Linked DNA regions of Homo sapiens. The protein of the gene in region 1 interacts with the protein of each later gene in a pairwise test. Each region holds a gene or a part of one and is shown in the gene's direction. Other genes may lie near its edges. The genes, in order: PCDHGC3 and HGD.

Region 1 (3,814 bases):
ATAGGACAGCAGGACTGGGACTCCAGTGGCACCAGCGGCCCCTTCCTCCCGCAGGAAGTGAAAGCCTCGAGCGCCCTGGCTCTCAACCCCCAGAGATACAGGCTTTTGGCGCCGTCGTGATCACAATGTGCCCAGCGATCTAGGGTCAGAGATTTGGAGGTGACCAAACTATCTGACACTCTAACAAGTCCTGTCTCCTCTGGCAGATGGAAAGCTATAGGCTCTGCCAGATGCCAGGGTGCCCTTATGTGTGAGGAAACTACAATAGTAAAAAACACAAGTTTCTCCAACTCCAGGAGCTTTTATTCAAAATATATCAATGCCTAACTCTGCTCCTAGGACTGTATTTTGAAACACCCCCAGGTGATTTTGATAGCTGATTGAGAGAAACTTACTATATAACTCCTTTGAGAACCTCATCTCATTTGCTCTTCCCACCATTGCTGTTGGCTAGGTACTAACATGCCTCTCTTATAACAGCTTCACAGAGGTCAAGTGACTTGCTCAAGTTCACAGAGCAAGTAAGAGAGATTCTAACCCCTGTCTAACTCCAGAATGTGTGCTTTTAATTTCTTGGCACTTGGAACTTTAAAAGCTTGAGGACAGGAGAGGGGAGTTGCCTCTGCTGGGATTTTGCTTCTGCTGGGATGGGGCAAGGGTGGGGTTCCTTCCCTTTTAGGACCTTACATGTGGGGAAAGTCTTCTGTGGCTCCTCATTTCTGAGCAGTCCCCGCAGCGCAAACTTGGCCAGTTATCCTTTTGGAGATTGAGTTCCCCCAGCTCCGTTTCCTCCTATCACAATCACTGCATTTCCATGTAGATTCTGCTGTGTCTAAGAATACAGTGGCTGAGGGCTGGCCATCCCTGTGCCCTTCTCCATGGCAGCCCCAGAATGGTGCTGGTGACTCCCGATACACCTGGAATGCTAGGTTTCTGGGTTCTGCTCATATCACTGCCACCTGTGAGCCTTGAGTGAGCCACTGGCAGTTCCGGAGCTTCCTTCTCCCTGGAGTAATCTGAGATACTCACACTCTCTGCTTCTGGGAGCAAGTATGAGTATTAATTACCAGCCCACCCCAGAACCAGTGAGGAGGTGGCTCTAGGAGTGCTCCATGAGAGTGTGTGATGGGATAACACACCCCCTGGAAAGACCAGAAGGGACTCAGGAATGAAGTGGCTGGCCAGAGCCCCACACCTTCAGCTAGGTGGGAGATGGCTACACATCAGCCCCTTGGGAGCCCTGGAGACTTAGTTGGCCCTGCTTGGAGGCTGTGGGAGCTGGATCCCTCCCCGCTGCATCCCTTCCATTTTTCTCCGTCTCAGACAGAGCAGCCTTGTTCTCTTCTCCTTAGTCACAGACCATTGTCTGGCACGGAGTTCTAGGGGTGAGAAGTGTCCCGGGACTTGGATGCCCCGCAAAGGCCCAATCTGGCATGACTCCTAAATTAATAATGTATTTAGCTGTGGGAAGAGATTCTTGCAAGCCAAGGGCCCAGAGAAGATGTCCCTGTGAATGTGTCACTGCACAACCTGGCACCAAAAGGGTTACCAAGAACAGCAGCCATCTTGCTGCAGAGGATGCTTTGTTCCCAGCTGAGGAGTTGAATAAATTCATTCTAGGGCTGGTAGAATTCTCATTGAAAAGCCTCCTTTGCCACTTTAGGGGGCTTTGTCTGCACCTCTTCCCCCAGTTCCACAGAAGATGCCTTCAGTCCTTGAATTTTGGCTCAGGAGTTCTGACTCTGGGGGCAGGGAGGAAGGGGCCATTTCTTTAGGAAAGGAGTCTCAGCTTGCTCACTGTGGTCAGATGAAATGTGATTTATCTCTTGGTTTCTGGTACCTCAGACCTCTGAGACCTGAGGTGTATTTTGTCTTTGGAGATGAGTCCACCCCTGCCCCCTCTTAGTCCGTTTTCTTCTCTGTGCCCACTCCCCTCCTTCTCTCCCGGCCCATCCCTAGGGGCTCGGGTGACATTCTAACTTCTCACGGGTACTCAGCCCCTTTCCCTCTGTTTTCTCCACAGCAAGCCCCGCCCAACACGGACTGGCGTTTCTCTCAGGCCCAGAGACCCGGCACCAGCGGGTAGGTGACTGATTCTCCAGCCCACCCTCTTCTCTGCGGCATTTTCTCAGGGATGACGTGGGAGGAGATGGGGGAGGGCCCAGCATTTGCTACAGATGGCTTCTCCCTCAGTTTGAGATCCCAGGGAGGTCTTGGTGTGCGGGGGGCTGGCACACAGACCCCGGAAGGAAGAGGCGACTGCCCTGACTGTTCAGGAAGCTCAATTCACATGCTTGCCCCTTCCCTCCTCGCCACGACCGGCACCTTTTCCTATCCCCTGAGGGCACTGTGGAACCAAAGGATGGTCTTAAGCTGGTCTCTGGGTGAAAGCGAGGCTTTCTATGCCCATGTACTGCCTAACCCCCTCCCCTGAGTTGAGCTGGGCTCCATTATGACCTGGGGCTCAGGCAGAAAAGCATTTGACCGGAGGAGGCGGTCCGCACTCAGCGCCTCCTCCAGAGCCTCCAGAGCCGAGGCTGACTGCAGCCTGGGGAGAGTGGAGGCAGCACAGCTGGAGGTGGAACTGAGGAAGGACTGGGCGGGGCATGGAGCAGGCCCCCTTCTCCGGCCCCTCCTCCCACTGTCCTCTGCCCCTACTTGTCCTGCTCTCTGTCTGTGGGGTCTCCGTGTCTCTGCCCCTTTTTCTTGAGTTTCCGTCTTTGCCACTTTCTCTTACCTCTCAGTCCTTCCCTCAGTCTCTATCTCGCTTTGCAATCTCTGCCTCTCCCTCTCTTCTCCATCTCTGTCTTAGCTTCCGTCTTGATTGCTGCACCTCAGCCTCAGTCCCTTTCATTTGTCTACTTGCATTGATCTGTGCCGCCCACTGTGCCTGCCATGGCATAAGTGCTCAATAAATGTGGAGTGAGTAACTACACGGGACCCTTAGTCTCTTTCTCCTTCTCTATCTCTGCCTCCCTGTCCTTGTCCTGGACCTCTTTTCTGTTTCTCCTTTCACCGTTTCCTAGCGCCTTGTGTTCTTCTATCCCCAGCCTCTATGTTTCTCTGTCTCTCACTATTTCTGCTTTCCTCTCTGTTCTTTGTCTCTCTTTGTCTCTGTCTCTGTATATCTTTCTTTGTCTCTGTCTCTGGTCTCTGTGCCTGTTGTCTTTTTCTGCCTCTTTCTCTGTTACTCTTTCTTTATCTCTCTTTTTCTTTTATCTTGTCTTTTTTCTCTGAGCCTCTGTCTCTGTCTCTCATTTTTTTGTGCTTGTGGGCAAGCCAGCACACACAACCCCCCACCCACCACCCACCAACACCCCGCTCTCTTCCTTCCCTGCCCCTCACACACTGAGCCTTTGATCGCAGCTCTCCACCAGACACCCTCCCATCCAAGCAGCCCCAGCTGCTCATTTCAATCTGGTATGAATTCCTGCTGAGACAGGAACCCCCTGCGGGCTGAAGGGGAGGGAAACTTCAGCAGAAAGACCTTCAGTTGGTCTGAGCAGAGTGGGATAGGCTCTGCGCCAGGCCTCCCAGTTAGAAGTCAGGAGCCTGGAGGAGTCTCAGAGCCCAGGGAGAGAAGCAGGAGCTTGGGCCACCTTACCCTACCTCCTCAATGGTTGAGTACTTGCTGTCCACATTTGCCAAGTTGCTACAGATGCTGAGCTTCCAAGAGTTATCTTTCCCCCATCCTGCAACCAACCAAACCCTTGTTGCCACAAGGACCCAGGAGCCCTTGGTGTATGGCAGAGATTCCAGCTTCTGGGCATGCACAGTCCTGTCACCCATTTTAGGAACGCAAAGCGCTTCTTAG
Region 2 (3,814 bases), on another chromosome or scaffold:
TATATGCAAAAGTCTGTTTGGCTAGAAAAGATAATACTCACAGGTTTCAGGGGTTAAGCCATACATATCTTTCAGAGTGAGCCATTAGCCATTATTCAGCCTACTGCGATAATGTGCAAGTTCCCTTTACAATCTATGTTCTATGTTCCCATCAAGGTTAATTAGAAATATTAGACTCTTTTTCCACAGAAAAAAAAAATGTAGCAGTAGTTTCATCTCTACCCTGACTTCTCTCTCTTTCCTTCATGCCCAGTAAGAGGAAGTGAGGTGCACCATCTGTTCATCTCATCAGGTGTTACCTAGAATCAGAGTCAGGAGAAAGCACCTCATAAAACTACTCTGACAAGTAAACCATATCCTGGGGACCAGGTGAGAATTAAAAAGCTGTATACTCATAAGCTGCCAAAGAGCTGATGGTACTGAAGTCACATGGAGCTCAGGAATTTATTCTTGCATTTAGAAAGTATGCATATAATTCTCTCGAAAAGAAATGAAATCATATTTTTCTGTCGGATCAAATTATTCAGAAATCCGAACTGTAGAAAACATACAAACACACTTGCTTAATGTTAGCTTTTTAATCTTATTTTTGTACACAGTATACTTTTACATAGGCACTGAACCAGCTGGAAATGAATGCTTGGATTTTCGCAGCTGATAAAAGCAGAGTTCAGATTCTGTCCTTGAGCTCAATGTCTGGAGAAAGCAGCTGTGAATACTGCTTCCTTAATTCAGATGCCTTTGGCCGTGAGGGGCATGGCATTTTAAAGCTGCAATAAACTCTGTACTTTTTCTCTCAGGGGATTAGAAAAACCAATTGATTTGATAGTGACTCAGCAGTTTTCACCTTCCTCTTTAGCCAATGCCCTGCAGCTAAGATTGAGAAACGGATTCAGAACTCACACCTCTTGGTGCTTGGTGGCTCCCTTCCAAACCATCAGCTGTTCTTTCTACTTTCTTTCCTATTTTTTAAAGCACAGTCTGAATCAAGTGCTTCAGAACCATTTATACTAACTCGTGTTCCAAACACATAACCCTGAACCCTCTTCTAAGGCCACCAGTTACAAAGAATGGGGAAGGTTAATGAGTAACTCCACCAGTGCCTGCCAGAAAGCTCAGCTGTACTCCAGCCTTCCTTCCTCTCTTGCAGAGAGAAACAATGCGGCAGTTGAACAAAGCGAAGGCACTGTAATGCCCAGTGGCTTCAGTCACAGGCTGGTCTAAAATTCCATTTCACAGAATTGAAGATAATTTGGGGTTATTACCAATTCTCAGCAGCTCAAATTCAATCCCGTTGATGGTGAGCATGGGGTTCATTTTGAGAGTAGAAAATTGGATGCAGTGGAGAATCAGAATGTTGGATGGTCTCTGCCATTTCCCCAAAGATATCATCCTAACTGCATGCTGCTGCTTTTAACAAATCAGTATACAACTTAGTATTTTTTGTGTTGACAAATTTTCAAATATACAAAATATTGAGTCTGAAGGCAAAAAGAATAATTTTTCACTTCCATTGCTTCCTAGGTCATAACATTCACATCTGATATTTCTTCCAAATACAGACTGTTGTTGGCCTGATCATCACTCACACATCCAGGCTTGTTACATCTCCACGCCACTGAGTATCAGGGAACCTGCCCCAATATTCACGTAGGTTCTTTTCTATTTTCCCTAAGCGTCGGCCAACTTTAGAAATAAAGGGACAGAGTACAAAAGAGAGAAATTTTAAAGCCGGGCATCCGGGGGAGGCATCACATTTCGGTAGGTTCCGTGATGCCCCACAAGCCACAAAAACCAGCAAGTTTGTATTAGGGATTTTCAAATGGGGAGGCAGTGTGCAAATAGGTGTGGGTCACAGACATCAAGTACTTTACAAGGTAATAGAATATCACAAGGCAAGTGGAGGCAGGGTGAGATCACAGGACCACAGGACCGAGGCGAAATTAAAATTGCTAATGAAGTTTCGGGCACCATTGTCATTGATAACATCTTATCAGGAGACAGGGTTTTTAGGATCAACTGGTCTGACCAAAATTTATTAGGCGGGAATTTCCTCTTCCTAATAAGCCTGGGAGCGCTGTGGGAGACTGGGGTCTATTTCACCCCTGCAGTCTCGACCATAAGAGACAGGCGCACCTGGAGGGGGGCTGTTTATAAGCCTATACCTCCTGGCTCGTATTCTCTTTCTCAGGGATGTTCCATGCTGAGAAAAAGAATTCAGCGATATTTCTCCCATTTGCTTTTGAAAGAAGAGAAATATGGCTCTGTTCTGCCTGGCTCACCAGCAGTCAGAGTTTAAGGTTATCTCTCTTATTCCCTGAACAATTGCTGTTATCCTGTTCTTTTTTCAAGGTGTCCACATTTCATGTTGCTCAAACACACATGCTGTACAATTTGTGCAGTTAATGCAATTATTACAGGGTCCTGAGGCAATATACATCCTCCTCAGCTGACAGGATTAAGAGATTAAAGTAAAGACAGGCATAAATCACAAGGATATTGACTGGGGAAGTGATAAGTGTCCATGAAATCTTTACAATTTATGTTTAGAGATTGCAGTAAAGACAGGCATAAGAAATTACAAAAGTATTAATTTGGGGAACTAATAAATGTCCATGAAATCTTCACAATCCACGAACTTCTGCCATGGCTTCAGCTGATCCCTCCGTTTGGAGTCCCAGACTTCCCGCAACAACTGAGAACTCTGGAGGGCCTACCCTTCACCCACTTCCACCCTTCTTATATCTCTTAAGGAGCTGTGTTCAGATGGTTACATTTCGCTTGCTGAGCAAGACTGCATTTTCATTATCCTGGGCTAAAATCAATTGGTATTTAAGTTAGAGCAAAAAGGGTTCTAACCCTATTTACAGCAGCACACATACACTTACATTAGAATTGGCTTTAAGGGAAAAATTCAATCAATCGACAAATTTCCACTGATTACCTTCTATGAGCCAAGACTGCCATAGTCTCAGCCTTCATGCAGCTTATAGGCTAGCAAAAAAGCCAGACAGTGCACAAGAACTCACAAGTGTGTTGAGTGTTGCAAGAGTAAGTTTCAGGGGCTCTCCATGACTTACCTGGTTGAGAAACCCTTTAACTTTTTTTTTCCTCTGGGTGTAAAGTGAAGAGATGGCAATCAGAGTAGGTTCCATTGTGTCATTGTGAAAAGATGCTGGGCTGGCGTGTCTCCTGAAGGCCACCCATATCTTTAAACTTTATTTTCATGCATTCGCACAAATATAGATGTGTTCCATAGATGAGGCAGATAGCAGAGGCTTCTGCCTACAGCAAGGCTAGTTTGGAGAGGGTTTTGCTGTCAGGGTTGGACCCACACACCTCTTCATAGATGCTTTTTCTTTTTTTTCCCAGAGTTTGAAAGGGAAATGGAGTCTCAAGTTCAGGGAGGTTACAGTGTAGACCCACAAATCAGCTAAGTACAGCTAAGGGTGGAGAAGTCTATGCAATATCCAGCACTCTTCTGATTAATTAGAAGTCTTTAAAATTCACAGAAACCATATTGTCTTCCCTAAATGATTCATATGTCAAGACACAGTAAAGATATTATATGTGGAACATCATACACAAACATAGGTCCATATAGAAATTCTTACCTTAGTAAACTGCCAATTTTCTGAAATGCTCTTTAAATCCTGCTAATGGTGGCATTTGTGTCTTTGTCACCTACAGTACATTTCTGGATTTGGGAATGAGTGTTCTTCAGAGGATCCTCGCTGCCCAGGTTCCCTGCCAGAAGGACAGGTATGAGCAAATAAAGTGCTTAGAAGAGCTCTGAATCCTATTCCTGGATGAC

The links.
Region 2: the proteins of PCDHGC3 (region 1) and HGD interact in a two-hybrid assay, tested with the Homo sapiens proteins (one large-scale study listed by BioGRID and IntAct).

The regions. Positions count from the first base shown.
Region 1 is NC_000005.10:141,492,784-141,496,597, forward strand, and holds part of PCDHGC3 (protocadherin gamma-C3 isoform 1 precursor), read left to right. Parts: intron 1-2,023; coding exon 2,024-2,082; intron 2,083-3,814. Other genes in the region: PCDHGA1 (protocadherin gamma-A1 isoform 1 precursor), read left to right, coding at 2,024-2,082; PCDHGA2 (protocadherin gamma-A2 isoform 1 precursor), read left to right, coding at 2,024-2,082; PCDHGA3 (protocadherin gamma-A3 isoform 1 precursor), read left to right, coding at 2,024-2,082; PCDHGB1 (protocadherin gamma-B1 isoform 1 precursor), read left to right, coding at 2,024-2,082; PCDHGA4 (protocadherin gamma-A4 isoform 1 precursor), read left to right, coding at 2,024-2,082; PCDHGB2 (protocadherin gamma-B2 isoform 1 precursor), read left to right, coding at 2,024-2,082; PCDHGA5 (protocadherin gamma-A5 isoform 1 precursor), read left to right, coding at 2,024-2,082; PCDHGB3 (protocadherin gamma-B3 isoform 1 precursor), read left to right, coding at 2,024-2,082; PCDHGA6 (protocadherin gamma-A6 isoform 1 precursor), read left to right, coding at 2,024-2,082; PCDHGA7 (protocadherin gamma-A7 isoform 1 precursor), read left to right, coding at 2,024-2,082; and 11 more. UniProt on the Homo sapiens protein: Potential calcium-dependent cell-adhesion protein. May be involved in the establishment and maintenance of specific neuronal connections in the brain.
Region 2 is NC_000003.12:120,675,740-120,679,553, reverse strand, and holds part of HGD (homogentisate 1,2-dioxygenase), read left to right. Parts: intron 1-1,559; exon of another isoform or gene 1,560-1,650; intron 1,651-3,690; coding exon 3,691-3,762; intron 3,763-3,814. UniProt on the Homo sapiens protein: Catalyzes the conversion of homogentisate to maleylacetoacetate.